Linked DNA regions of Homo sapiens: region 2 is linked to region 1. Evidence: fine-mapped expression QTL. A gene starts in region 1. The other region holds a variant in brackets. All regions are shown on one strand. Distances are from middle to middle.

Region 1 (14,297 bases):
ATGCAGAGCCAGAAGGATCCTTTTAGAACATGAATCAAATCATGTCACTCCTCTGCTCAAAATCCCTTAGTCCCTCCCTGAGCCCTCACTCTGTACCATTCCCTCATTCTGCCTCCCAAATCCCCAGAAACACATTGCCTGCCCCCAAAATAGGACTTAGAGTGAAGGCGCTCCCCAGGCCCTGGAGCTGAACCACCAGGGACCCCCTTGCCAGCTAGGCTGCAAGAAGTCACTTAGATCCTCTGGGCTCATTTCCAGTCCCATAAAAGAAGGTAACAGTATCCACCATCTAAATGTTTTTGTAAGGCTTAAACAAGATAATGTATCTCAGGCCCTTAAAACAATGATACAAAGTCAGCACTCCTTAGATTAAGCTATTGTTAAAATTACCATTATTTGTTCTGTTTCTTATCTCCTCCTTTCCCTCCAAGTCCCTGGAGGTGCCTGGAGTTGTTACTCTGTAGCTCTCAAGGTTACAGAGTAGCACTAGAGAGACCCTCCCAGGATCCAAAGAAGGAGGAGTGAGAGGCTGGTGTTCAGCCAGGGCTGTCTGTGCTTCCAGCCGGGCTCAGCCTTCTGCCAAGCTGCTCTAAATCTGTGGCTCGGTTCCCTCATCTGTAAAATGGAGGTTAAATGCCCACAAGGGGCAGCTGGGAAGACAAAAAGCTACAATGTATGCACAGCCTGCAGCATTTACCAGGGTCTCAGTTAGCATTAATCAGCCATTGGGGAAGGCATTAATCAAATGTCAACTCTATGCCAGGCACTGAGGTGGGGACTAGGATGCAAATGAGGGGAATGGGGAGGGGCCCAGGATTTGCCCTTTGCCCCCACCTCCCTCTACTGCACACCCATACCAAAGGGACCTCCTCGGTCAGCCATGCCAGCAGCAGGAGATAATTACACCTGCTCTCTGCCCATGGGGAAACAGACTAATCAACTGAGAATTCTAATGTAGTTACAAGTGCAGCAGCAGAAGCATGCACTGGGGGCACGGCGGGCAGAGAGCAGCAAGAAGGAATCCTAAATTTAATCTGGAGTGTGGCTAGGCACTTAAAGGGCTCAGAAAAAGCTTTCAGGGGAAAAAAGCAGGCATCTGAACTCAATCTTTCAAAAAAGATGAAGCAGGAGGAACTGGCTTTAAGTTTAAGCAAAGGCTAGGAGGCAGAACAGAGTATGCTAAAAAAAAACCCTGCTGAGAGTTAATGTGCATCTTACCTTATCAGGAGAAACCCAAAATGACCTCCTGATCATTAGCCAGGACAAAGGGATGAACAAGGTGCCCCCATGGTCCATTTCATCCTTGTTAAGCAGCCATTTATTGGGCCCTTCCCCAGGTGCCAAGCACCTGTTGTGTCTGGTTCGTCTCATTTATCTCAATGGGAAATACGGCAGCGGAAAACTGAAATCCCAAGAGGTCACATTACTTGATCAAAGTCATGTAGACCAGCAGCAGCACAAAGATCAAAACCCTCACCTGAGTCCCAAGCCCCTAGTCCAGAATCCTGTGGCAGCATCTGGCCAGATATTAACTGATTTGCCAGTACTTGCCACTCTCAAAAGAGGTTAAGGGACTTATCCGAGGTCACACAGATAGAAAGTAGCAAAACGAGTTAATGGGTGCAGCACACCAACATGGCACGTGTATATATATGTAACAAACCTGCACGTTGTGCACATGTACCCTAAAACTTAAAGCATAATAATAATATAATAATAAAATTTTAAAAAAGTAGCTGAAACTGGATTTGACCCAGCTGCCAACCACAGAGCTCTTCACTATGTTGACTGTTCCCAGCCATGCATCCTGGAGTTCCCCACTCCCAGGTCTCTAGGCCATAGTCCACTGGAACATAAGTAGGAAACACAAGCCCCATTATAACACCTTCAATTAGACAGAAACCAGGACAAGGGACCAGGCTCCTCAGTTCTTTCCAGCCCTCACTCTGGGAGGGCCTTGGACTTAACCTTCCCCAGGGTCCCAGTTACTTCCAGCTTCGAAGCCCAGTGGATCAACTCAGCCATAAACACCAGACTTCCATGCTGCGTCTCACCAATTGCTTTGTAATAGCTGCTCACAGGTTGCCCTAAAGGAGCAGGGGTGGAATTTACACTCTCACCTGCAGTGGCTGACACCGTTCCTTTGAAAACACTGTATCCCCTCTGATGCTGCAGGGTGGGTGTAAGGTGCAGCAGTAATGTCCATTCAACTGTTGGAGGGGCCCTTACCACTCAAGTATTTGCCTGTGCCCCATTTTAACAGAATCGTTTTGTGGGATTTTGGATGAAATCCTGTACTGGCTTAACATGCACAGAGCACTGAAGAGAAAAACTTCCTTGATTTCTGGTTTGGGGTTCTTGTATCTCACGAAATGCCCTTCTAAATAAGCTTGTGAGATACAAGAACATGAATGAGCTTATGAGATGCAATTGGAAACAGATCTTCACGGCCAAAAGATCCCTGGAGTCCACCATTCAAATCCTGCCAGCACCCAGCTCAGGTCTCCAGCGTTCCACGCTTTATCAACTATGGCAGGGAGGTCTCCAAGACCTTGAGCCCAGGAGAGAGCACCAGCCACCACAGCAACTTCCATTTTGCTTCTGCTTTTTTTGGTTTTTTCAAAAAAAGAAAAAAAAAAGCCTTGAAATCCCTTTTTTGTTCCTGTTTCCCATTCTTAATGGGTAATTCTATAAAATGACTTATTTTGTAAATACAAATATGGCTGAGTTTGAATAACTGATTTTTGCCATTTTTACATTTCATGTCCTTCTAAAGGTTTTTCTTGTATCTCATAAGCTCATTCATGTTCTTGTATCTCATAAGCTTATTTAGAAAGGCATAAAATGGGCCAGGCACGGTGGCTTATGACTGTAATTCCAGCACTTTGGGAGGCCGAGGTGGGCGGATCATGAGGTCAGGAGATCAAGACCATCCTGGCTAACACGATGAAACCCCGTCTCTACTAAAAAAAAATACAAAACAATTAGCCGGGTGTGGTGGCACATGCCTGTAATCCCAGCTACTCGTGAGGCTGAGGCAGGAGAAAGGCGTGAACCCGGGAGGCGGAGCTTGCAGTGAGCCGAGATCGCGCCACTGCACTCCAGCCTGGGCGACAGAGCAAGACTCCGTCTCGGGGGCGGGCGGGGGGGGGGGGGGAAAGGACATGAAATGAGATGCGAGGACCCAAAACCAGAAATCAAGGAAGTTTTTGTCTCTTCAGTGCTCTGTGCATGGTAAGCCAGTACAGGATTTCATCCAAAAATCCCACAAGACAATTGTGTTAAAATGGAGCACAGGCAAATACTTGAGTGGTAAGGGCCCCTCCAACAGTTCAAGGGACATTACTGCTGCACCTTACACCCACCCTGCAGCATTAGAGGGAATACACTATTTTCAAAGGAATGGTGTCAGCCACTGCAAGTGAGAGTGTAAATTCCACCCCTGCTCCTTTAGGGCAACCTGTGAGCAGCTACTAAAAAGCAAAACACGCATATGCTTCGATCCTGCAATTGTACATGTAAAGAAAGACATGCACAAAGATGCAATATGTACGACAGAAAATCACGGAAGCAATAGTTGCAATAGAAATACAAAAAAAGAAAAAAAAACAGAAAACAACTGCTCATCAATGTGGGGGGCCTCCTGGATAAATAATGGTGCACATGCACTGAAGAACGCTCAGTAGCCATCAGAAAGAATGAGGATGATAGATAAGCAATTTGATCTGGAAAGATTTGTGAGGTCAATAAAAAAATAGCTTCAGACAATAGTTGCAACTGTATGAGTATAATACAATTCCCTTTTTATAAAGGTGATCTTCTGGTAAATCCAGGAGAGTGGTTACTATTTATCGGAGGCTGGGAGAGGGTAGAGGATACAACTTGACTTTATTTATATTAACTGATGATGTAACGGGCAAATTTTTCTCTTTGTGTTCTTGCTGTTTTCTAAATTAAGAAGTGTTTGTGTGTGTTTGTTTGTTTGTTTGTTTGTCTTGAGATGGAGTCTCTCTTGTCACCCAGGCTGGAGTGCAGTGGCATGATCTGGGTTCACTGCAACCTCCACCTCCTGGGTTCAAGTGATTCTCCTGCCTCAGCCTCCTGGGTAGCTGGGATTACAGGCGGCCACCACCACGCCCAGGTAATTTTTGTAGTTTTAGTAGAGATGGGGTTTCACCATGTTGGTGAGGCTGGTCTGGAACGCTTGACCTCAAGTGATCAGCCCAGCTCGGCCTCCCAAAGTGCTGGGATTACAGGTGTGAGCCACCGTGCCTGACCAAGAAATGTTTTCAAAAGTTTTCTCACCAGCAGCTTTTCATTGACTCTACCCAATGAGTGCAAAAGGGCTATTCATGGGGTCTGTGCTTTTCCACTTCCAGAGGAACTGCCCATACTCCAGTCGCTGGTGGGGGAAGGCAGCTGCATCATTAGGTGACTTAAACATCAGTGAGGCTCACAATGACGATTGTCCCTGAGCTGGTATACACGTGACTGCACACACACCTTTGCAAGAGAAACTGCTTGAGGCTGGCATAGACTTCAAAATTCTGTAAAACTTCCCCGCAGAACTGTAGTCAAGGACGAGGGCCCATGCCCCAGAGAATGCCCTTGAACCAGAGAGTCAGGAACTGCCCAAGGACTCTCCATGGATGCGCCCCGATTCTCAGCGAACCTCGTGGAACAGCAATAAGCCCCAATTCTCGACACAGCCCTGGAAAATTGGGTGGCTCCAGTATCCAGAGGGGGAAACAGACTCAAAAAGGTTCTTCAACTTGCCCAGGGTCCCACTGATGGAACTGAAATTCAAATTAAGTTCCGACGGGCAAGGCCACCTGTTTCCCTCGCGCCATGTCACCCCTTTACCACCCCGCCCCCCATAGTTTCTCACCCTAGTTCAAGATTAGGGTACCAAGAGAGCCCCGCCCCACCGTCCTGCTGGAATCCAGGAGCTCCCCGTCCAAACGGGGCACGTCTTTAACCTGAACTCTTGCGCTGTGCGGGTAATGCCCTCTTTGGGATTCCAAAACACAACAAAACACAACACGCACAGACACACGCATAATTACGCAGACAGCTGCGGAGCGGGCATCGCGAGTGTCCTGCAAGCTCTCCAAAAGTCTCCGGGAAGGACTGCGCCTCCCGCGGTATCGCTCCCACCCGCCACCCGCAACCACCGAAGTGAGACAGGGAAGTGTGGCTCCGAGCGTCCGCGAGCTCTGGGCACAAGGGCCGTCAAGAGAGACGGCGCCACCCCACGCAGAGCCGCTCGAAAAGAGGAGTTTTGAACGCCAGCCCCCACACGACCCCTGACCTTCCTCCCGGTCCCCATTCAAAGCTGGGGCCGCCCCACCGCACGGACCGGAGAGGTGGCGCCGGCCCGGGGTGAGGAAGTGGCCAGCGGCTGGGCCAGGATCCCTGCCGTCACCAAACGGACCCCGGGCACGGCGGGCCGGGGTCCCCGAGGGTGCGCCCCGTCCCTGCCCGCTCCGGCTGAGCCAGGACGCAGACCCCCTCGGACGCAGCGCCCTGGGAGCCGGTCCCCGCGGGGCGCAGGTCCCTGGGCGCCCTGCCTGCCTCGCTCCCGGCCGGGCAGCTCACCTGGCCGTGCCGCCCGGGCACAGCTGCCCGCCTGCCCCGGGTTTGGGCTCCGGGGTCCCGCGCGCGCAGCCCGCGTCCCGACTCGGGTCACTCAGCGCCGCTCACGCCCTCCGCCGCCGGCGCTCGCTACTTCTGCTTCGGCCGCGGCGCCGCGCCACGTGATCCTCGGGGGCCGCCCCCCGCACCGCCCAGCCTCGCCCCGCCTCGCCCCGCCCCAGGCGCGCCCAGCCGGGTCCGCCTCTCGGAGCGCACCCCGAGTGCAGCGTCCCCGCGCCCTCCCCGCCATGGAGCGGCCCAGGCCTGGAGCCCCGCCTCTGCGTGCCAAAGAAGAAACTGAGGCAACCCGAGGGGAGGCTACCTGCCCGAGGCCACTTGGCCAGGTGCAAAGGGAATTCCCCAATATCATGGCATTCCTGGAGAGCCGGCCGCAGTCCAGGTGTTTGCCGTATACTTAACACACTCCCGGCCGGGCGCCCGGGCTCACGCCTGTCATCCCAGCTCTTTGGGAAGCCTAGACGGGAGGATCGTCTGAGCTCGAGAGTTCGAGACAGCAATGAGCTAGGATGGGTGTGGCCGAGAGACACTCCGTCTCAAAAATAAATAAATAAAAATTAAAAATAAATATACTCTTCACAATTACCCGCCAGGAATTGCCAATTCATGGCCCTAATTTGAAGCCCTCGTTGAGGCTGCGCTGGAGTCAGACCAACCCTTACTGCTACCTTAGGCAGACCACTTAAAAACCGACAGCCTCAGTTTCCCCATCTGTAAAACGTGATCAACATAGTGCCAGCCCCAAAGGGAGTCAGGAGCAAAGAACCCCAGACAATTGATGTCCCGTTTTCCTGATCTCATGGGAAGAAGCTAATATGTTCTTTAAGAAATTTATTTTTCCGTTCGTGTGTTGCATGAAGCTATCTGATTCAAACCCTTCCTATGCTCTTTGATGGAGGTATCTTTGTTGTGACTAGAGGCAGTTTCAGGGGCACCTAGACAGCTGTCAGGCACTTGAATTTCACTTCCAAGTTGCTTGAGTTATAGCTTCTGTTTTCTAAGAGGCAGGGTCTCACTCTGTCACCCAGGCTGGAGTGCAGTGGTGCCATCATAGCTCACCACATCCTCGAACTCCGGGACTCAAGCGATCCTCCTGCTTCTGCCTCCTGAAGAGCTGGGACTATAGAGGCACACCACACTTGGCTAATTTTCTCTTTTTTCGACATGAGGTCTCACTATGTGTCCCAGGCTGTTCTTGAACTCCTGACCTCAAGCAATCCTCCTGCCTCTACCTCCCAAAGCACTGGGATCACAGGCATGTGCCACTGGTCTGTTATAGCGTTTTTTTTGTGTGTGTGTGTTTTTGGTTTTTTTTGTTTTTTTTTTTGTTTTTTTTTTGTTTTTTTTTTTTTTTGAGACAAAGTCTTGCTCTCTTGCCCAGGCTGGAGTGCAGTGGCACGATCTCGGCTCACTGCAACCTCCACCTCCCAGGTTTAAGCGATTCTCCTGCCTCAGCCTCCTGAGTAGCTGGGATTATAGGTGTATGCCATCATGCTTGGCTAATTTTTTGTATTTTTACTAGAGACGCGGTTTCACTATGTTGGCCAGATTGGTCTCAAACTCCTGACCTCAAGTGATCCACCCACCTTGGCCTCCCAAAGTGCTGGGATTACAGGCATGAGCCACTGCACCCGGCCTGTTATAGCGTTTTTTAATTGAGGAATATCACTCTCACTGTCAATGTTGTATCCCAAGCCATAGGACTCGTTTGTGACTTCACAAGATCTGTGGATTCATTTCTTTCAGCACTCCCAACTGGCGTGTATAGCTGTGCTCATCACCACAGATCACTTAACACATCAATTTTTTAAAGAGATCTTGGAAGGACTCATTATGACATCAACCACTTGAAGTCATTGGGCCAATTCCCCAGGAAAAATGACTACATCTAGGGGCAATTCCTTTGCCTCACTTTTTTTTTTTTTTTTTTTTTAGAACTTCAGCTTGTATTTATTTCAACCAATCTTTTTCACACTTTTGTTTTAGTATGTGTTATATAAAGTACATAATATATTAGTTCAGTCATATATATGTATAATTTATTATTACAAAGTCTACATGGATAGGGGAGTGGGTTAAGTCTCTTGATGGCAAAATGAGATTGCATATAATCAGAATGTGTGGAGACCACTCTAGGGAGCCGTGGCTCCTAAAAGCCTATCTTGACAGATGCCAATTCTGGCTGGATTTTTCTCTCATCTGTGGGAAGCAAGCAAAAAAATAAGAACATGAAGAACAGGTTTCTCTGTTTAATCTATGCCTGTGAGCCTATAGTATTTTTGAGTTAAAATGTCCACTGTGTGTGAGATAATGGTCATCGTAAATGGCAGTTTGCTTTTTTTTCTTTCATGTTTTTAATTCATTTTCTTCTTTGGCTCATTTTTTGCTAACCAACCCCTAGCCCAACCCCACCCCCCAGGTGAACGACTGAAGGAATCAGTGGATTGAAAGAGAGTACTGGAGGCCCTTCATCTCTTTCTCAAACTCTAACTTGGTTGTTCAAAATAAAAATAATCTGCCAGGTGCAGTGGCTCATACCTGTAATCCCAGCACTTTGGGAGGCCAAGGCAGGCGGCTTACCTGAGATCAGGAGTTCACGACTATCCTGGCCAACATGGTAAAACACCCTCTCTACTAAAAATACAAAAATTACCCAGGCATGGTGGCACACACCTGTAGTGTCAGCTACTCACGAGTCTGAGGTAGCAGAATCGTTTGAACCCAGAAGGCAGAGGTTGCAGTGAGCCAAGATGGTGCCACTGCACTCCAGCATAGGTGATAGATCAAGACTCCATCTCAGAATTAACAATCGTCGTCATCATCAAGGCGGCAGGCGCTGTTCTGGGAGGACTCTAATGTAAAATGACACTTCTTTTCCCAAGGATAATAGGTGGGGAAGGAACCATTCTGTGTATTCTTTCTTTTCCATGGAATAAAATAGGTAGGGAAAGAAACCACTCTGAGCCGGGCGCGGTGGCTCACGCCTGTAATCCCAGCACCCTGGGAGGCTGAGGCGGGCGGATCACGAGGTTGGAAGATCAAGACCATCCTGCTTAACATGGTGAAAACCCGTCTCTACTGAAAATACAAAAACATTAGCCTGGCCTGGTGGTGGGTGCCTATAATCCCACCTACTCAGGAGGCTGAGGCAGGAGAATGGCCTGAACCCAGGAGGTGGAGCTTGCAGTGAGCCGAGATTGTACCACTGCACTCTAGCCTGGGCAACAGAGTGAGACTCCGTCAAAAAAAACAAAAAAGAAAGAAGGAAAAAAAGAAAGAAAGAGAGAGAGAGAGAGAAAGAAACCACTCTGTGGGTTCAGACATATGAGGTAGAAAGGCCCTGTCACAGGTTAGCTGTCAGAGGGCTAGAGTGGGTTAAGTCAGTGGGTGGTGGGGGCTGGATTTGAACCTCAGCCTGTCTGGTGTCAGAGCCCATGGGCATGCTGACCTGCCACCCATCCCCAGATTAATAAGAGGCATTCAGGCAGGGAGATGTGAGTTTGTAACCACTCTACATAGATGCACAAATGGGTCAGGAAGTGACCTCAAAGGGTAGAGGGATCTTTCTTTTCCTTTTCCTACAAAAGAAAGAAAAAGGGAAGTGGATAGGTAAGAAAGAATAACCTGAAAGAAAATTACATTTTAAGCTGAATCATCTTGACTCTTTGTATTCTGTGTTGCTCACCAGTCCTTGGGCATACAAATGCTTTTCCCTATTACCCTCTTCTCTTTGCTGGCAGCCATGGTGCATTGGACCATTAGCCTCTCTGGGTATCAGTTTCCTCATTATTATACCTATGGGTATCAGAAATGTACCTACATCTGAGGGGGACTGTGAGATGAGGGAGGTAAAGCCCTCATCCCCATGGGGCAAAACCAAGGCTGACTATTTTAGGAATTGTTACTGGGAAGAAGAAGACCTCCTGTGAAAGCATGAACTTGGAAACAAGGAATCTGGGCTCCAGTTCCAAGTCTGCCCCTTCCTTAGTTTTATGGCTGTGGGCTGCTCAGCCACCCTCTTTGGACTTAATTTCCCCATCATAAGACCCACCTATAGCATATGCAGAATTAGCAAATCTACAGAGACAGAACGTAGATCAGTGGTTGCCAAGGACCAGGAAAGCAGAGAGCGGGCCTATCGGAAGGTAAAAGATAAGGGGTACAGGGCTGCTCTTTGGGATGATAAGAATGTTCTAAAATGGATTGTGACGATGGCTGCTCAGCTCTGTGAATGTGCTGAAGCCTCTGTACTGTACACTTTACATGCATGAGTTGCATGGGATGTGAATTATATCTCAAGAAAGCTGTTTTGAAAAATATCTGTGGACTGGGCACATTGGCTCATACCTGTAATCTCAGCTATTTGGGAGGCTAAGGAGGGTGGACCACTTGAGCCCAGGAGTTCAAGACTAGCCTGGACAACATGATGAGACCTCCATCTCTACAAAAAACTTTAAAAATTAGCCAGGCCTGGTGGAGTGAGCCTGAGTCACAGCTACTCGGGAAGCTGAGGCAAGAGGATCACTTAAGCCCAGGAGGCAGAGGTTGCAGGCAGTGAGCCGAGATCATGTGCCACTGCATTCCAGCCTGGGCAACAGAGTAAGACCCTGACCAAAAAAAAAAAAACACCCTTAGAGGGTTATTTCAAACCCAGACCTCCTTTCCCCTCCTCCACCACCACCTCCAAAGGCAGTGACCAGGCTGAGGTCCACCGCCCTGCCCCAGGGAACCTCGCCAACCCTACCCCTCTACCCCCACAGCCAAAATGACCAGAAAACCCCCTGGAGCCCTTGAGTCTAGTTTCCTTTCCCAACATTGTTCAGAGAAGCACACATCCGTGGCGACGAGCCGAGTCCCAGCTGCTGGCTGGCAGGCCTCTGTGAGAGGAAGTACCACCCAGAATGGGCTTTCAATGGGGTTAGGCCTCACTGCTTCTGGAGGTAGGGGAGGGCAGACCCCTCTGCTATTTAAATTGTGGCCAGCTTGGTGGAGCCCCCGGTTTAATGGTTTTGTGGGTTTTGTTTTGTTTTGTTTTTTTTACTGCCCAGGCTGGAGTGCAGTGGTTGGATCTCAGCTCACTGCAACCTCTGCCTCCTGGGCTCAAGTGATTCTTGTGCCTTAGCCTCCTGAGTAGTTGGGACTACAGGCGTGCATCACCACGCCTGGCTTTTTTTTTTTTTTTTTTTTTTTTTTGTATTTTTAGTAGAGACGGGATTTCACCGTGTTACCCAGGCTGATCTCAAACTCCTGAGCTCTGGCAGTCCACCCACCTCAGCTTCCCAAAGTGCTAGGATTACAGGCATAAGTCACTGTGCCCGACCCATGGTTTTGCTTTGAGCACCTCTAACCTGGAGTCCTGGTGGAGCTCATTTATTCATTCAACAAACATTTGCGGAGTGCCTGCAAGGGGCCAGGCACTCCCAGGCTCCAGGGATATAGCAGCAACCATCAAAGTCCTGCATGATGGGCACAGAGTGTAGTTGGAGGAACACAAAAAGGGGGCTTTGGAGTGAGACAGAGCTGGTTCCAGTCCCAGTCGCTCACTCTCTGTAGCTCTGCACAGCATTTGCAGCCGCTGTAAGCTTCACTTTCTTCTTTGGTAAATAGGGCTGCTGTGGAGGAGTGAGTCTGCGAACGCATATCCAAGTCCTGGGCATGGATCCTGGTTAGATGGGACCCCTGGAGCTGACTCAGTAGTCACTACATTGCAATGAACTCTCAACATGCGGACCCTGTTATGCTAAGAACCAGACTGCAACCAGGCATTTGCCAGGCCCCAAACCTCATGTAAAATCAAGACAGCCAGTTGAAAGCCAAGAGCAATAGTGTACAAGAGCAGCTGAAAACATGGGACACAGAGACAGGTGGGCCTCAGTGTGAATCCCAGCTCTGCCTCTTACCCCCCTGTGTCTCCAACAATGTAATAGTCTCTGAGCCTCAGTTTCCCAATCTGCACTGCTGAAGACAAAAGCCCCTCGTTCTCATGTCTGGAGTCTCCACTAGGACGTATTCAGCTTCCACAAAAAGGCTATCAATGATCTCACATTGCTGGAAGCCCAGGAGTGGTTGGGGTGCAGACAAGGTACACTGAGAAGTTCAAGTGTGTCAACAGGGACACCGATTATTTCCACATCTGCCACTCCTGGCAACCAGACCTGAAAGGGAAGAGACTGAAAAGAGTACACCTTTTCCCAACGCCCCCCCACACCCAGCATGCTTTCCCTCTGTCTCATTGGCCAGAAATGGGTCACAAAGCCTGCTCTGCCTCAGTCACTCTCCAAGAAAATGGGATTTTCCACATTTGGCAGTATATTTAGGATGGATCAGCTTCCCCCACATCATGAGAGGATGCCCAAGAGTATGTGGCCAAACAGGGCAGCTGTCGGCAGGGGCAAGGGGAGATGGTGTCAGGCAGGCAGTCTGCAGGGTCCTGCAGTGGTCATAGGCTGCACCAGGCAGCTGGCACAGAGCAAGAAGGCATCCGAAGGTCTCCCTTTTGTTCCCACCACAGACCAGCAAGCCAAGCTTCCTTTCTTAGCCTTTTCAGTCATTCTTTTTTTTGGAGATGGAGTCTCACTCTATTGCCCAGGCTGGAGCACAGTGGCATGATCTTGGCTCACTGCAACCTCCACCTCCCTGGTTATCCTGCCTCAGCCTCCCGAGTAGCTGGGATTACAGGCATGCACCACCACACCCAGCTTTTTTTTTTTTTTTTGTATTTTTAGTAGAAACAGGGTTTCACCATGTTGGCCAGGCTGGTCTTGAACTCCTGACCTCAGGTGATCCACCCACCTCGGCCTCCCAAAGTGCTGGGATTATAGGCGTGAGCCACCGTGCCTGGCCCCTTTCATTCATTGGACAAACACTGAGCCCTTATTTAATACCAGGCCCCGTGTCTTACCTTCCAAAGGCTGCCGTAACAAATTACCATGAACTTGGTGACTTAAAAAAAAATAGAGATATATCATCTCACAGTTCTGGAGGCCAGAAGTCTGAATGCAAGGTGCCAGCAGCAGCACTGGTTCCCTCCTTAGGCCCTAGGTGAGAATCTGCCCCACGCCTTTCTCCCGGGTTCTGTGGTTGGTGGTGATCATGCGCTCCTTGGCTTGGAGCTGCATCACTCTAACTCTGCCTCTGTCTTCTCATGGCCCTCTGCTCTCTGTCTCAAATACCCCTCTCCTTTCTCTGGTAAGAACACCAGTCCTCTGATTGAGTGTCCACCCTGAATCCAGGATGTTCTCATCTTGAGATCCTTAACTTAATTACCTCCATAAAGACCCTATTTCCAGCCTTGCACCAGTGGCTCACACCTGTAATCCCAGCACTTTGGGAAGCCGAAGTGGGCAGATCACTTAAGGCCAGGAGTTTAAGACCAGCCTGGCCAACATGGTGAAACCCCGTCTCTACTAAAAATACAAAAAGTAGCCAGGCGTAGAGGCACAGCCTGTAGTCCCAGCTAGTTGGGAAGCTGAGGCAGGAGAATCATTTGAGCCCAGGAGGTGGAGGTTGCAGTGAGCGGAGATCCTGCCCTGGCACTCCAGCTTGGGCAAGAGAGAGAGACTCCAACTCAAAAAAACAAACAAACAAGCAAACAAAAACAAAAACAAACCTTATTTCCAAGTAAGGTTACATTCACAGGTGCAGGGTTTAGGACTTAGTTTTTTTGTTGTTGTTTTTTTTGGGTGGGGGGTTGGGGGGGGTCACAATTCAACCCACTGTACCCTATATTAGGCAAATAGATTAGACCTATTTACCTCTCAATGGGGAGACAGCAGGAAGAGGCATTTACTATCACAGAATGGCAAGAGCTGAATTAGAGGGACAAATCAGGCAAGGGCTAATCCTCTGCCTCATGGAGCTGCGAAGACTTCTCAGAGGAGGTAACCTCAGAACTGGGTCCTGAGGGATGAGCAAGAGTTCTCCAACAGCACCAGAGAGAGGGAAGCTTTGTCTAAAACAAGGCTGTGTTTCACAAAACTCATCAGTGCTTTTAGAAGTCAGAATAGTCCTGGCTACTTGGGAGGCTGAGATGGGAGGATCCCTTGAGCACAGGCGTTTAAGGCTGCAGTGAGCTGTGACAACACCAGTGTACTCCAGCCTGAGCAACAGAAAGAGACTTTTTCTCACACACAAAAAGAAGTCAGAATAGAGAATCTCACTGCCTTGGAGGCAGCAGAAGGAAGGACCTTGAGGGCTGCGATGTTCTAGGTTTTGATCTTGTGGTCACATGGGTTAGTCACTTTATGAAAATGTACTGAGCTCTGTACTTATGATCTGGGCCTTTTATTTATTTATTTATTTTTTTTTTTTTTTGAGATGGAGTCTCGCTCTGTCACCAAGGCTGGAGTGCAGGGGCATAATCTCGGCTCACGGCAAGCTCCACCTCCCGGGTTCACACCATTCTCCTGCCTCAGCCTCCCGAGTAGCTGGGACCACAGGCACCTGCAACCACGCCCAGCTAATTTTTTGTTTTTTTAGTAGAGATGGGATTTCACCGTGTTAGCCAGGATGGTCTCGATCTCCTGACCTCACGATCCGCCCGCCTCGGCCCCGCAAAGTGCTGGGATAACAGGCGTGAGCCACCGCGCCCGGCCTGATCTGGGCCATTTTATGCACGTTATACCTCAACAGAAAGTTAGTATTAT
Region 2 (16,160 bases), 150 kb before region 1:
GGGAACACCTTTCCAAGTATGTCACCAAATCCCGAATCATAAAAGAAAAGATTCAAACTTGCTAAAAGTGTCTATGTAGCAATAAATTGCATAGGCAATTTTAATTCAAATGACAAATATGTGAATATAAATTTTTAACCTCTTAGTTCTGATACATCTATGCTATAAATACCTACTGCAGTAGATACATCAGGTAAGAAGCACAAATAGTTCCCAGAAAAGAAAATGCCACTGCTCCCTAAATGAGGGAAAAACTGGTTAATGTCCCTTACAAGAAGAAGCTCTAATGGACGACGATGTATCAGTTTTCACCTCTCAGTTGTGCAAACGGCAAAAAGTTCAACAAAACTCAGCGAAGTCATACCAAAAGAGCGTACTCCAACCTCCACCTATTTGCATCCCCGCCCACGATCTCTATGGAGGGCAGTTTGGCAGTGTGGCTTAGCTCAGGCACGTCTTCAGTGGTTTTCCTCAGGGCAAAGTTGATCAAAATGCAAGCGCTGTTTGACCCACCCTGCCTTTCTGAGAATTCTGTCCCATAGACATATTCCTACATCTGTGGAATGGCGCTCACGTCAGGGTACAGAAGGCAGTGCTGTCTATGACAGCAAATAATGGGGAATACCTACATGTGCCTCCACGGGGACTTATTAAATAAATGATTGTTCCATTCTGTGGAATCCGATGTGGCTATAAAAAGAATGTAAAGGAGGCTACTGATGAATAGATCCCTCGAAAGAGGTCTTAAATAACAACAACAAAAGCACAAAGCCCCGTGATTTATGCGATCACTTTGTGTCCAGAAGTTTGTGTATGTTAGTTATGCCAGCATGTAAATGTCTCTGGAAGAAAGTCTGAGCAGAAAGCCCTCACACAGCAACAGGCCTGGAGAAGAGAACTCCAAAGATGCTTTAATTACATGAACTAATGCATTTTCTTTTTCTAAGCCAGACTAACTCAGCCTCTGTCACTTACTTACAATCACGAAGCCTGCGTAAGCCAAGCAGCCTTCGGTCCTCTCATCCCTCCATTCAGCTGCTGGACCTCATACTAACCATTACTCTGCTGAACCGTGCAGTCCCTCGGACAAATCACTCATTCTTGGACACCACATGGTATCGCTGACCCAAGGTGACTCGGCCTGGAGTGACTGCAACCGCCACCTTGCAGGGACGGGACTACCTTCAGTCGGCCTTTACCTGCCGTCTGGAAATTGAGTGCCACCATCTGAGAACCGCACAGCCAGAGGCGGAAGGGGTCGTAGTTTGAAGAGTCAACTCTTTGTCCCTTTGGGTAGACGCGGGTCAGGCCCTTTTGATTGTACTTCAGGAGGTCGACGGGCTTCTGTCTGATGATGCTGTCAGCCTTCGTCTCCACAAAGGAGCGGATTTCTCGGAAGTCAGGATTTTCTGCACACAGAGAAAAAGGTCATCAGTACTTCTGTGTCTCATCTGTGCATTTTCTTAATGTTTGCTGCAATGGCTGGATGCTCAGATTATAAAAGGAAACCAGGAATCTCCCTCTTTGACATTCAAGGGGTTCTGATGATATTGTCCCAATTGGTATCACTGTGGACTCTTGCCCTCTGGGGGTTCCAAGTATTAAAAAGGGGCCTAGTTTTCCCACCACCTTTTAGGCTAGAATTACTGTAATTTACTTTTTTTTTTAAACTATCACCATCCTTGAACAAGAAAACACAAAAGTGGTACAGTTATAGAAGAGGGAGAATGGGAATGGTTTTGGGTAGGAGAAGATCTTGGGAGGGGAAGATCCAGAGAGACCACAGACACAAGATGAACAAACTGAGAATCACCTGCCAAAGCCCACAGGTAGGGTTGCAATGTGGGTGCCTGTGCAGGGAAGGGAGAACAGGAGGAGAGGGAAGGGGACAGGCCTCATCTTCTCTCCCATCCAGCTGTGGTGGGATAGCCCGGCAGTCAACATGCTGAGCCTGCTGAGTCCCTGAAGGTAGAAGTTCCTAGGGACTGGCCTCCCGGTAAGTTAACTGAGGGGTCTAGTATTGTCTGGCTGGTCTTCTGTTCTAAGATGAAAGATATGGAAGCAGCTCAAAACACCCAAAGAAAAAAATACGTACAGCATCATCAAAAAGCTTGCTACCTGGAGAATGTGGTAGAAGGTCTTTTTTTTTTTAAATGGCCCCCAAAGATGTCCAGGCCCTAATATCTGGAGCCTGTGCATGTCACTTTATATGGCAGAACAGACTTTGCAGGTGTGATTAAGGAGCTTGAAATGGGAGGCTTATTCTGGAATATCCAGGTGGACCTAATGCATCACAAGGGTCCTTATAATAGGGAAGCAGAAGAGGAGAAGGCCAAGGAATGCCAGCAGCCCCCAGAAACTGGAAGAAGGGAATGGCTTTCCCCTCCGGAGGGAGCACAGCCCTGCTGGCACCCTGATGTTGACCTCATGATACTGATTTCAGACTCTGGCCTCCAGGACTGTGCAAGAATAAATGTTGTTTTCAGCCACCAAGTTTGTGGTAATGGCAGTAAGAACTAAATCCACCCACTAAGTGGGTGATATGGTTTGGCTGTGTCCCCACCCAAATCTCACCTTGAATTGTAGCTCCCATAATTCCCACGTGTTATGGGAGGGACCCGATAGGAGATAATTGAATCATGGGGGTGGTTTCCCCTGTACCGTTGTTGTGGTACTGAATAAGTCTCGCGAGATCTGATGGTTTTATAAGGGTTTCCCCTTTCACTTGCTTCTCATTCTCTCTCCTCTGCTGCCATAATTGTGAGGCCTCCTCCACGTGGAACTGTGAGTCCATTAAACCTCTTTTTCCTTATAAATTACTCAGTCTTGGGTATGTCTTTATCAGCAGCATGAAAATGGACTAATACACCAAAAAAGCTTCTGCCACCAGCTCCCTCACTCGGAGGACAAACCCAAGGTGGGGCCATCTACTGGGAGTAGTTAAGAATGAGAGAATGCACTCTCTGCCCCCTCTGAAAATATCAGACTCTAAAGGAAGTTAAGTTTTCATTGGAGTTATAGGGCATGTTCTTGGGAAAGATGTTACCTAAGTTGTCCTTGGTTTTGCTGGTTGGTTTGCAGTAGACAACCAGGTCAGAGAGCTCGATGGCGATGGACTGGTTCTTCTCCCAGTACTTCATGTTGTTCTCCTGTTTGGAGTTCACTGTCTTTAGTGCCCGCCCCCGAGAAATCCCATCTTCCCAGCTCGCCCTGCATTTTTCCTCCTCCATCCCCACTTTGCTTTCTTGCACACTCGGATCTTTAATATGGTTGAATGTTTTCCTTTCCTGAAGACAACCCTGCCCCTCTCGTTTCTTCCTCTCACTGTGAAAATTCTCGACAAAGCTGTTTCCACGAGGTTTTGGTGTGCAGCTCAGTCCTGGCCACAGCCCTCAAATATAGGTGAGGTCAGGATGGAAGGGGGCTCTTCTCTGTCACCACCCCTCTGTCTTTAACTCTGCCTCCTGTCCCCTCCCCTAAAGCCACACTGTTAGAGTGTCTCAAATTCTAGTTCTTCAAATCCTCGGGGGCTCTGTGGACCCCAGCATCCTCGTCATAACTCTCTATCCCCTGCACCCTCAAAACCTGCACACCTGCTCCCCAGCTCTGACTGCCCATCAGGGCTCTGTCCAAGGGGACCACTACCCAGTGCCCAGGCCATGTGCCATGGACTCAGGAGGTACCTCCCTTCAGAAGACCCACCATCAAATCTAACTCCTTGCATGTAAGGATGAGCTTCTCACTTCACCCCAAAGCAGGCAACCCTGTTGGGCCTCCCCAAATTCTATCAGACTTTTATTGGCCAAGGGGGGACCTTGAGAGAATATTTAGATAATAATGGTGACTGTTTGGGGGGTGCTTAGCTCTAGCCGTCACAGGCTAAGCACTTGAGGGATATTACCTAAGTCAATCCACACCCTGACAGGGAGAATTATCTCCATTTAACAAAGAAGTTGAGTAGCCTGGGCAACAGAGTGAGACTCTGTCTCAAAAAAAAAAAACAAAAAACAGCATGACAATTACTCTCCAGGCCTGCAGCTGTCACCCCTCAAGCCATCTCAGAATGGGAAGTCACAATACAGTTGGTGAGGCTCTGGAAACCCACTAACTAGAAGGATTTTGTGACTGCCCTCTGCCATCAATGAGGTGGCTACAGACCGTGTAACAATGCGGGCACTTAGGGACAGGCAGAGGTCCTGGCAGTGACAAAGAGTTTATCCGCCGCTGGTTTCCCAAGAGTGGGATGGGGCCTTCTTCCTTTGCTCCCCAACACCAGCTCCGCAAAAGGGGTAGCTGTGCCCAGTGTGGGAACTCCGTCAACTCTACTGTCCCAGTTTTTTTACCCCTCAGATGTAATAACAGGACTTTAAAAATCATTCTCATGAAATCTCAGTAAATATAAAAACCAGTTAGAGAGGAATGCAGACCAAAGGCCGCCAACAGCAACCTTGAACAGCTCAGCTTCATTTCAGGAACCTTCACGCGGCAGGAGAGGAGGTGTGAGGCAGGGGAGAGACAGAGCCTTCTAGGGAAATAACACTTTTCCACATTAAGCAAAGTAGAGAGAGCTGGAGTGCACTATTTGGAGATTTTTTAAATAAACCTCAGGGTCGTGGCACCTCCCTGTGCCTCAGAGCTGTACTGTGGCATCAGAGACACTGGAGGGCAGAAGAGATGGTTTCACTGGGAAAGCCAGAAGGACAGCGCAGCTGGCTACAAGCTCATGGTTCCTCCCCCATGGCTGGTGGTGTGAAAAGCCATGGGAAGAATTAGGAGCCCTAGGGAAGGCCCCCAGGAGTTCCTGGGTCAGAGAAAGACGATGCCCCACCAGCGAGGGCACCCATGGACCAGTCCCCTCTGCAAAGTCTCCTAAAGAGGACACTTCCCTGCAGAAGAGTTGAGTGAGTCAAGGATCCTCTCGTGACCAGGGACTGGCCAAGATGTGAGGCCCTCCCAAGGGGAAAAAAATGACCTGGCCACTGGTGGGTGACTATCTTGGAGGAGAGACTCACTGACTCTAGCCAGAAGTCAGAGGGCACAAGAGGCCCCAGGAAGGCTTTAATCAGCCCTTTGGGTCAAGTTCTACCTTAGAAACAAATGGGTGCATGGGAAACCCTACAATTTCTTTCCAGTTCGGCAGCCACAAGAACAGACAGCCCTTACTCCATCATCGAAGACAGGGTGGCACTTTCCCATGTCGCTCTGATATAATGATAAGGCAGTGATTAAGTACTTGTGAGTTAGGAATTTGGCTCCTCATTTTGCAGACAAGGAAACTGAGGCCCAGAGAAGTGTGGTTACTTGCCCAGGGTCCAGCCCTGCCAGGATGCAAACTCCAGTCTGCCCAATTCCAGACCTCCTATTCTTATCCAGAAGCTCACACCTTCCCAAAACACTTCCAGCCAGAGACTAGTACTTCAGGTAGGACAGCCCTGAAAAGGTCACTCCCATCTAGAGGGGAAGTTCCTCCACCGGAAAGAACCGGGTCTCGCTGATTTGCTATGTTCCCAGAGCCCATTCCAGCTCCAGGCAGGTGAGCTCAGTGAACGTTTTCTGTCAGGAGGATCCAGACTGCTTTATATGATACTTAGAAAGAAAATATTCAAAATGAGGAAGGCAGTAACTTCCTTGGTAAGATATGTAGGGCCGCAAAGACATCATCAATGAGCATTGCTGCAGGCACTCAGCCTTCTGAAGGTTCGAACCAGACAACCAGACCCACCTTCCCAGGGCACCTCCACTATCCCTGCCTCTCTCTAACAAGAGGTGCTCCAATTGTCTGAATCCACCTGGTCTCCTTCCTGAATTCTGAGTAGGACCTGGGCCTGCTCATCCTGCTGCCTGGACCCACCCACAGTCCCAACTGAGCACCAAAGCCCTCAGAATGCCAGGCCCACCTGCACCCGGGTGAGCAGGTGCCTACCTTGGTGTCAATCTTCCAGGTGATCTCTCGGATGCTCTGAAACCACTCAAAGAGCTCCTCCACCCTGTCTGTGGCAAACTCCACCGGAGGATCGCCCTGCTGCTTGGGCTCCAGGATGAAGACAAAGGACTTCTGGTTTTTTCCCTGAGGGGCTTTCACTTGGGGTAAGAGAATAAGAAATGTCCCAATCAGCCTATTAGAGGGCCACAAAGACCAGACTGCACCCTGCCTGAGCTGTTTCTCTCATGGACCAACCACCACTGCTATGACCACGGTTAGCACTGATGGGGACGTCTACTTTCCATCGGGGTAAGTACACATCACAGATGACTACTCAAGGGATGCAGTAGATTCAGTAGGGTCCTCCGAAAAGATGTGTCAGGTCACCAGTACCTGTGAATGGGACCTTATAGGGTCGTTGCAGATGTACTTAGGTTAAGGATCTCAATATGAGATTATCCTGGATTTAGGGCAATTCCAACATCCAACAAGTATGAGTATCCTTATAAGAGAAAGGAGAGGGACACTTAAGATGCAGGAAAAAAAAACAAACATTAAAATGCATGAGAGAACCTGAAAAAAATACCCTCTTGTCCACTTTAGTTATAGACATGTGTTCGTCTTGATCAAAAGAAACACTGAATATCTTTTTGGTTGACCAATTAGAAAATGCTTTTTACACTCATCATAAATATTTTTTACAAATTACTAAAACAATACATGTTCATTTTAAAAATATTTAAAATATAGCTAAGCAACTTGGCATTTTTACAAAATGTTTACATACAATACATAAAATTTTGTGAACTGTTTCACTTAGCATATTGTGCATAATTTTCTATGTTGTTACATATAATCTTTTACATATAAAGAATAAATAATTTAAATGGCTTTTTTTTTTTTTTTTGAGACAGGGTGGCACTCTGTCACCCAGGCTGAAGTGCAGTGGTGCGATCTTGGCTCCCTGCAGCCTCCACCTTCCAAGTTCATGCGATCCTCCCACCTCAGCCTCCCTAGTAGCTGAGACCACAGGTGCACACCACAAAGCCTGGCTAATTTTTGTATTTTTTGTAGAGAGGGGTTTCGCCATGTTGCCCAGGGCTGGTCTCGAACTCCTGAGCTCAAGCGATCCACTCACCTTGGCCTCCCAAAGTGCTGGGATTACAGGAATGAGCCACCACACCCAGCTAAATGGCTTTAAAAACAGATGCAGACACAAGGGAGAAAGCCATGTGCAGGCAAATGTGGAGACTGAAGAATGCAGCCATGAGCCAAAAACACCAAAGAGTCACCAGAAACTAGGAGAGAAATGTGGCGTGGGTTCTCCAGACACAGAGAAAGGATCTTACAGAGAAGAAAAGATTATGACAGGGAAACTTATCTGCCAAATAATATTAGTAGCTAAGATTTCTGAGCTCTTATATACCAGGCAATATTCTAAGCAGATTACATGTATTGCATCTTTATTTTATTTTATTTTTTTAATTTTGAGCTCTTGCTACATTATCCAGGCTGGTCTCAAACTCTTGGGGCTCAAGGGATCCACCCACCTCAGCCTCCTGAGTAGCTGAGACTAAAGGCACCCTGCTTTTGCTAGGCCCATTTTGCAGGAGGCAAAACTGAGGCTCATTAAGAGAAAGTCACATGTGGAAAGTCATACAGCTAGTAGTAGTAAAACTGAGGCTCAGTTCAAACCTGACTCCAAGATTTCTACTCAGAACCAATGAGCCATGTGCCTCTGCTCTGCAGATACAGGGATGGGGGAAGATGATACAAAGAGCACCAGAAGTGGATGCAGGGATCCTGCACCCCCCTGCCCAAAGGACCTCAGCACATGTGGTGGTCGGTCACTTAGGACCTTGATTTTCCCATCTGGTAATCGGAGCAAAGAATCCCTCTCCTACCTATCCTGCTGGATCATTGTAAAGGTAAAGAAGCAGGTTATAAATGTGGAAAGCAGGCTGGGCATGGTGGCACATGCCTGTAATCCCAGCACTTTGGGAGGCTAAGGCAGGCAGATCACTTGAGGTCAGCAGTTTGAGACCAGCCTGGCCCACATGGCGAAACCCTAGCTCTACTAAAAATACAAAAATTAGCCAGGCACGGTGGCCCATGCCTGTAGTCCCGGCTACTCAGGAGGCTGAGGCAGGAGAATCACTTGAATCCAGGAGGCAGAGGTTGCAGTGAGCCAAGATCACGCCACTGCACTCCAGCCTGGGTGACACAGCGAGACTCTATCGCGAAAAGAAATAATAATAAATGAATGAATGTGTAAAGCAGAGCATTGGCAATAGAAGCAGGAAGTTCCTGGGGCTGCTGTCACCTGAGTCCTAGGGGAGCATGCCCGTGCCTGCCCAGGGAGGGTCATGGGCTGCCCAGAACAAGGAGGCCCGCTACAGAGTCCCTTCACATGGGAGCTGCACCACACCCACTTCAAAGCAGGCAGGCTCAAGACCCAGGAAACCCAGCACACATCAGACCCTGGCCACCACTGGACAAGCCTAGCCTTGGGGCCACGCCTTCACATCCCGTTGCAGCATGGTCAACGTGGGCGGGCTGGGTTTCCTGGGCCCCAGCCGAGCAACCAGGAAGCAGAGGTTCAAAGAGGAGAAGTGACAGGCCTGTAGTCTCACAGCGA[C/G]AGAGAGGCAGAGCTGGGTTTAGAACCCAAGACTCCCAACTCCACGCTGCATTTCAGCCAGGCTGACAGCTCAGCTTTCCTTCGCAACGCATGGGAAACACAGATGGATCCTGAAATAATAAGAGTGACGCTGGTAATAATATCCGCTAACCACCATCTAGCACTTATGTACGAGACCTTGTTTTAGCACTTACAGTTTTAGTAGAGATTAATAGCAGACATAGCATCATACTCACTGACCAGCCTGACCTAAATACTCAGCTTCAGCCAGGGAAGGAGCTGGCATTCAAGACAGGACCCTGTGTCAGCCACCTCCCTGTGTAGGGCGGGGCTGAGGTCAGCCCATGGGGGATAGGGGTGGAAATCCAGGCTAAGATGATGTGTGCACGTACCGACGTTATAGGTATTGAGGTCCAATATTCCTCTGCAAAGAGACCCTAAGGGATTGTCTTCAATAATCTGTGAAGAAACAAGACATAACTCACGTTAGTTGTAACGGGAATAATAAAAAGAAAACCCGTTTCCAAAGCACACCGTTTAGCAGAGATACTGCCTGTGGAACTGTTTAAAATGCATTTTCATTACCAGATACGTCCATGGGGAGAGAGCTAAATAATGAAGCATGGAGCTGATAGGGACCTGGCGGGGAGAGGGTGCCAGGAGGTTCGGAGTTTCATTTTCCAATCCGTAAAAACGTGCCTTGTGAATTCTAGAACAGGTTTCATAATGCTTCCTCAGATCTGGTTTCCAAACACATCCTAGACTATTTATCTGACCTTATTAGAAAATGAGACTATTTTGCCTACTAAAGCCCGGCTCAAGAACCTTCTGTGGCTCCCCATGTCCTGTGGAAGCAACACCCATGCTCTATGACCTGGCTTTTAAGACTTTCAGAGCCCCCATCACCCTTTCCAGCTCTGCCTCCCATTGCACCCTTGAACCATCCCAGGGTCTGGCTGAGATGAAGAATATCCTGGGCTTAGGAGAGGTGGCAGAACCAGGCATCCACTCCTTGCCTGCACCACCCCAAACCCCACCCCCTGCACCAGGTAAATGCTGATGTACAGGTAAGGGCAACTCAGTACAGAGGAAGCAAGGGCTTCCAGTCTCTGCCTCAGCCCAAGCACACGGAACACAACCACATTCCCACTGCCACACCTTTGCTTAGACTGTACCTCCCACTTGCACCTCTCTTCTGCCAGTCTCTTGCTGTTGAACTCTAACTTGACTTTTAAGGGTCAAATACTCCTTCCTCCAGGAAGCCTTCCCAGATTGCCCTACATCCCTTAGAAAATAAACACCTGGGGGTCTAACGGGATCTTAAAATCCTCATTACAAAGATATCATCCTTGGTGGAGTGCTAGCACGCTGAAAGTGGCTGCTCTCTAAACAAGAGGCGGCGAGGGAACAACCACCAGGTTTGCAAAGTCACCAGGAAGGCCTCATCTCACCTCTGGTTAGGCCCACTTGCTTACTCGCCCCAAGCACGTTCTCAATGTCTGGCTGTCCAATATAAATGTGTTTCATCTGCAAGTTGCTTAAGCAAAGGACAAATTCCCCATTTGGTCACTTTCACTCCAGCGGGAATTCTCCTGCATAATGAAATCCTTCCAAGCCCAACACAACCTGATTAAAACACGGCCGGCTTGTCACAGCAACTCACCCACAACAACTCAATCTCAATTTCCCTATCATCACTGTGTCTTCCCTGATCCAGAGCTCCACAGAGACCACAAGCAGCACATGGAAAAATTCACCCACTGAGATGGCACAGCTCCCTGAAAAACTGGACCTGCAGATCCCTTCTTCCTGTAAGAGGATCGAAGAGGGGGACTCACCTGCTTTTCTAGCTCCTCGAAGTCTGCAGTTGAGATGTCCTCGACGTAGTTGGATGGGAAGTACTGCTGGATCCTGGTTCCATAGTCTCCTTTCCACCTGGATAAGAAGAGAGGACATGGGGGCGCTGTCACCAGGTGGCATGAATTACCCACTACTGCTCATCTGCACCCGGCTGCTGGCTCAATTCTGATGGGGACAGACAGCAAGTGGCCAAGTGACCAGTGTCACTATCTGTGACAATGGAGCATCTCAAAGGCAACTGCTGTCTTTTTATTTTTTAATTACTAATGAGTTACTGGGGGCTGATTTTACCCCCATCACATGATCTTAATGTTTAATCAAAGATCACAAGTCAAAAGTTTCCATGCTTTACGTGGAAGTCAGAGACCATACAAGACAAAAGTTCACCCCTATTTCGGGGAGGTTGTGAATTTAGAGAGAAGGTGGTTCTGGAGGCAGACAGGCTGGAATTAAACTCCAGCTCTACCACTGACGGTGGAGGCTTTCTGTGCCTCCAACTCTCCATCTGAAAAATGCATAAACGTGAGTGCTTCCCTCAGAGGGTTTTATTAGGACTCTAAATTAACATAAGCTGAGTGCTTGGGACAGCGCCTACCTAGTACACAGTAAATACTCAATAGTGTTAGCTCTTATTATTATTCAGCTAAAACATTGTTCCCTATCTTTATAACAACACTAACAACACGGGACATAATCCATCTATGAATGTTCCTGGACCCCACCAGACGGTGAGCACCTCTAAGATTCCTCCCGGCAAGGCCGTGCCCAGACATGCAAACGCCCTCCTTCAACCTGCCCATCTCTTGAGCTATTTTCCGCAGCCAGGGACTCTCCAAAATGCACCTCTGACCACACCACATGATGGCTCCCCAGGGCCTCCAGAATCCAGCCCAGACTCTTCAACATGGCAGCCACGGCCCAGCACAGTCTGACCCCAGGACTCCCAGACATCACCTCCTAACTCTCCATGATGTTGACTCCAGCTGGCCCGTCGTCCCTATCATGCCCCTGCCATGCTGCCTAGCTTCCATGCCTTGGCCCATGCCCTTGGTACCCAACTTCCCCCCACTAATTTAAGACTCAGCTTGGGCATTTCCTCTCCCACGGAGTCTTCCCTGACTGCCCCCTAGGCTGAGCACTCTTCCTCTGTGGTCCCCTGGCATCCTGTCCCCACAGTCATCCAAGCAGCCACATCTTATACTTAACGTATAATTATACATCTGTCTTCCCCTCTATATGATATCCTTCTGGATTTTTTTTTTTTTTTTTTTGAGACAGAGTCTCACTCTGTCCCCCAGGCTGGAGTGCATGGCACGATCTCAGCTCACTGCAACCTTCGCCTCCCAGGTTCAAGCAATTCTCCTGCCTCAGCCCCGCCAGTAGCTGGGATTATGGCATGGGCCACCATGCCTGGCTAATTTTTGTATTTTTAGTAGAGACAGGGTTTTACCAGGTTGGCCAGGCTGGTCTCAAACTCCTGACCTCAAGTGAGCCACCCGCCTCGGCCTCCCAAAGTGCTGGGATTACAGGCGCAAGTCACTGCACCCGGCTGACCTTTCTGGATCTTAATCAAGTCTGTGCTCCGTGGTGGTGGGAAGAACTTAACAATTTTTTGGTCTGAATAAGCAGAGTGAGGACTGATGCTACCAATTCACCTAGCAGAGACACAGGACTGCGGGTTGTAAGCCCTTTTCACGCCCCCCCGCACCATTTCTCCAGACCCACTTCTGGCAAGGGCTGGCTGTATTTACGGCGATCATATATACCATCTGTCCAGGACTGAGCACTTTACATTCTCTTCACTCTCAGGAGCATCTTGGTTCAGACAATAATTGTTTGGTCCCCTAGCTACAGGGAACCAGTTTGGAAGTATGCAAAAAAGCCGGTTTCACCCAGGCGGCCCCCTAGGTAGCACTACTGCCATCAGAGAGAGGAATTGACCACAGCCGCTGGGCGGTTTGCCCACAGTCCCTTGCCAAAGGGACTTCTGACAGTCTCTTAAGACAAGAGCCTTCGAAATTCAGAGAACTGCCTGTCAGAGGCATAGAAAGGCATGAGGCCATCTCACACAGAATGGAAAACCGTGATTTGGAGTAGTCACCTGGGCTCCAGCCACAACTCCAAAAATGTTGTTAGTCACCCACCCAGTGCGCACCAGGATGTTGACCAAGGCAGGGACAGGAGCCCAGTGAGGGAACGCCAGTGTGCCTGGAAGAGACCTCAACTCTGTGCCACTTCGAGTGGAGGGACTTCGGCAAAGCCGAGCCTCTGAACTGGGAGAAGCAGACGGACAACACTGTGGTTGCCCAACTGGGTCTGGGAGCCTCCAAGGGGAAGCATCAGAGGCTGCAGTAGGAACAGCAATGTCAGCAAGGAGGCCAAACAGGGCAATTCTACGCCCCCACTCCAGCTCAATGGGTAACTCGGCTGCATCTTTGATTCTGTGGAATCTAGGTATGAATTGGTTTGCAATGAGGTTCTCCTGATTTTAAGAAAAAGTTTGATAATCCCTGGATTAAGGCATCTTGCAAGAGGACAGGGAAGGACTTAGCAGATGAATGGAGTTAAGAGTGTAAGCTCTGGAGTCAAAAGGCCTGGCGGTTCAAATCTCAGCCTGCTATGTGGCCCTGGACAAGTGACTGCACTTCTGAAGGCTTCAGTTTCCTCATCGGTAAAATGCAGGTAACAACAGAACCAACCTTTTACAGTCATCATGTAGACTCAGTTATTTCAAATGAAGTGAGTTATTTCAAACGTGCTTAAAACAGTGCTTGACACATAGAAGCACTCCATGCATGCTGCTATTCAGATTCCTAAGCCAGGTCCAGTTATCTTGTGGGAGGCAGAAATGCCAGTCTATGAGGTGCTTAAACCAGTGCTCACTATTATGAGCAAGTTCTTATTGCTCTCAGACAGAAGTCACCCCACAAAACCACTTCCCCAGAAACCTATCAGTGGGCAGTGAATTTTTCTTCTAAGGTTAAAAAGCGAAGTGGTAACTAAACCCTAGCATACCCAGGTACCTTTGCACGAAAAACGTATTGTCTTCAATTCAGGATGTGGCCATTGCACACAGCACGGGACTATGGAACAGCATACGAATTTGAATTGGAAATAACACACAGTCTTGTGTATTGGAAAGCGCCTGCACTATTTAGTATTTAGTATTTATTTGTGTGACTTGGAAAGTCTCATTTGCCGCATCTTTTGTCACAGGGAGTAATGAAGATTTGGTTGAAGATTTGGTTAGACAATGCATGGAAAGCAATTAGCAGACTGCTTGCCACTTAGAAAGACTTCAATAAATGGTAGCTGCTGTTGTAATTATAATAATATACAATATATGATATGATATGTCGATACCTGTTAATATTGTTGTTTATCCATTTTCTCAAATAGAGCATGCACCAAGCCACCTTCCTAAGAAGGGACTTAACACAAGAGGTCAAAGCCAGCCCAGGATGACAAAGGGGGTCAGACTTGGCCAGCACCTGAGTCTTATCACCAAGAAGGGACAAGTCAAGCCCACCTGCCGAGCAGCCCAGCCTCCACTCAGCCTTACCAGCCCCCGGGCTCCTTGGAGACATTGTGGATGAGGGCACCACGGCAGAAGCTCAGCTCATCGCTTCGCTTGGCTTTGTAGTCATACAGAGCTTTCACGGTTCTCTGAGGCTTTCAGGGAAAACAAGAAGGAAAAGGTCAGGCCAGGGACAGGAGGGGAGGGAGGCGGCTGCGTTCCCAGGTACCATTTGGTTCTTCTCATTGGGGAGCAGGAGGCTTCAGGCCAAGGTTACAAAGTCATCTGCTGGAGAGGGACTGGCATTGCAAAGGATCGAAGGCCCCAAAAAGCCACCAGGGAGTGAAGGAGAACTGGCCTAGTCAGAGCCAAGGGTACCTGGGTTGGGGTTAAGGGTTAGGGGTTAGGAGTTAGGGTTTGGGGCTAGGGTTTAGCGCTGGGGTTAGGGTTAGGCTTAGGGTTAGGGTGGGAGTGACCCTATATTGTAGTGACACAATATTGCTCAATTTCCTCAACAAAGAAAGGACATGCCTTTTAGATTAAGCCAAGACTGTCATCACAGTGCCGGTGCTCAGCAAGCCTCCCAGAAGCTCAAGGGCAACCCCATTCTTCCTGCCTGTCCTGAGGGCCTCATTGCTCTGTTTTTGTAGGTCAGCAGTCCCCTATCTACACTCCTGCAGGACCCTGACATTTTGCAAGAGTAACTGAGCTTCTCCTCCATGAAATTCATCAAAAGGTGGTCTCTGTTCACAGAACTAAATAAGATAGAACTTCCTTGGTTAGAAATTTTCTTCAATGAATTTGCTTTCATGCTTTCTGCCTGGCGGGCATAAATGAACACCCACACGGCAAGCAAATGTTAGTGGGAAAAGCTCTGACGTTGTCAAACCTGTTTAAATGAGCAGCTTCCTTCTCCTCCCACCCAAAGGAAATGGGAACAGGAATTTCACAGGGAACCTAGTAAAATTTTTCCTCAGAACACAGGCTACAGAGTCAGATATGTAGGTTCAAATCATTGCTCTGCCCTTGAATAATGATATAAGTTTGAGTCTCTCTGATCCTCAGTTCCCCCGTCTGTGAAATGGGAATTAAATTTTTATATATTTCACAGGGTTGTTAAGACTACTAAATGAGATCATGTGTATAATGATAAAACTGACAACAGCTTGCACTTCTTAAGTGCTAACTATAGTATCGCTAAAGCATTATTCCAAGCCTTAAGGTATCTCCTTTAATCCTTAAGCAACCATAACAGGTAAGTAGTTATATGAGTATGCCCATTTTGCAGATGAGAAAACTGAGATGCAGAGAGAGAAAGTAATTTGCCCCACATCGACCAGCTGTTTTAAGTGGCTCAGCCCAGAACTGGATCCATCAATGTGAGTTAGTGCCATAGTGCATGATGTTTCATAAGAAGCAATGTGGGTTCTAGGAGCTCTGCCACAGGGATCTGCAGCTGGAGGCCAGAGGCTAAGCAGTACCCTTGCCTTTCTCTCCCCCACCTGCAAACAGAGCAGCCTCTACTTGCGTATCCTGCTTCAAGGGTGGATATAAGGACCAGCCAGTCTCCAAGGCCACAGGAAGGAAAAGTCATCAGTTAGAGAGGTGACTGTTCTCATCGCCAAAACATCCTTCACTACTAACAAAAGTTTTTGCTACTAAGGTCTCTTAATGCATTTCACACACAGCTCAATTTGCCCACAACTTTTCAAGATTTCATTTCTTTCTGAAACAGATCTGCATTGGCCATGGATTATAAATTTTTGAAAAAGAAAGTCATCTCTGGATTTCAACAGAGCCCACAAGCAGGGCCCCTTCCTAAGTGAGCGTTGTACACTAATTGTGTGCCACATGGCCCCCAAACAGAAAATTCGCTGTGGTTCTTCCTCTGCCGGCTCAAACTAAATTTGAGATGAAAGCATGGCAAGGAGGAGCCGAGGGCTGAAAGTAAAATCCATCCCTACCTGCATGAAATTACACAACAGAGTCAGGGTGGGAATATGAGATAGCATTTGCACTGCAAGGAGGTCAGTGAACCAAATGGAATTTATAAACACCACAGGCTCTGTCAGCGAGCCAAAAACATTTGAAAGACTTTTCATTAGAAGCCATTTGGCCCAAAGGTGGTTCGTCAAACCTCAGAATTTTAGCAAAACACTGTTGCATTTGGATGGAATTCTATTAACATTTTCCCTGAAACTAGGCTTGATATTATCAATCAT

The links. PIP is the estimated chance that this variant, and not a neighbour inherited with it, causes the effect.
Region 2: its variant is fine-mapped to the expression of PLCG2 in whole blood (INTERVAL, PIP above 0.99). The same link has a PIP of 0.9 or more in unexposed skin.

What each region holds. Positions count from the first base shown.
Region 1 is chr16:81,770,726-81,785,022 of GRCh38, reverse strand. PLCG2 (phospholipase C gamma 2) reads right to left here and starts at 5,732. Exons shown (of 33, transcript NM_002661.5): 1 at 5,599-5,732. It overlaps LOC105369213 (a long non-coding RNA gene), which reads right to left. Exons shown (of 4, transcript NR_189584.1): 4 at 7,670-7,851. RefSeq lists silencers at 5,427-5,506, 5,517-5,616, 5,647-5,916, 5,945-6,239.
Region 2 is chr16:81,921,418-81,937,577 of GRCh38, reverse strand. PLCG2 (phospholipase C gamma 2) reads right to left here. Exons shown (of 33, transcript NM_002661.5): 22 at 13,984-14,093; 23 at 10,400-10,496; 24 at 8,954-9,020; 25 at 5,924-6,081; 26 at 3,047-3,149; 27 at 1,200-1,409. Among named protein-coding and RNA genes, the nearest start is that of SDR42E1, 82 kb to the left of the region's middle. The variant C/G (reference allele first, on the strand shown) is at 8,562.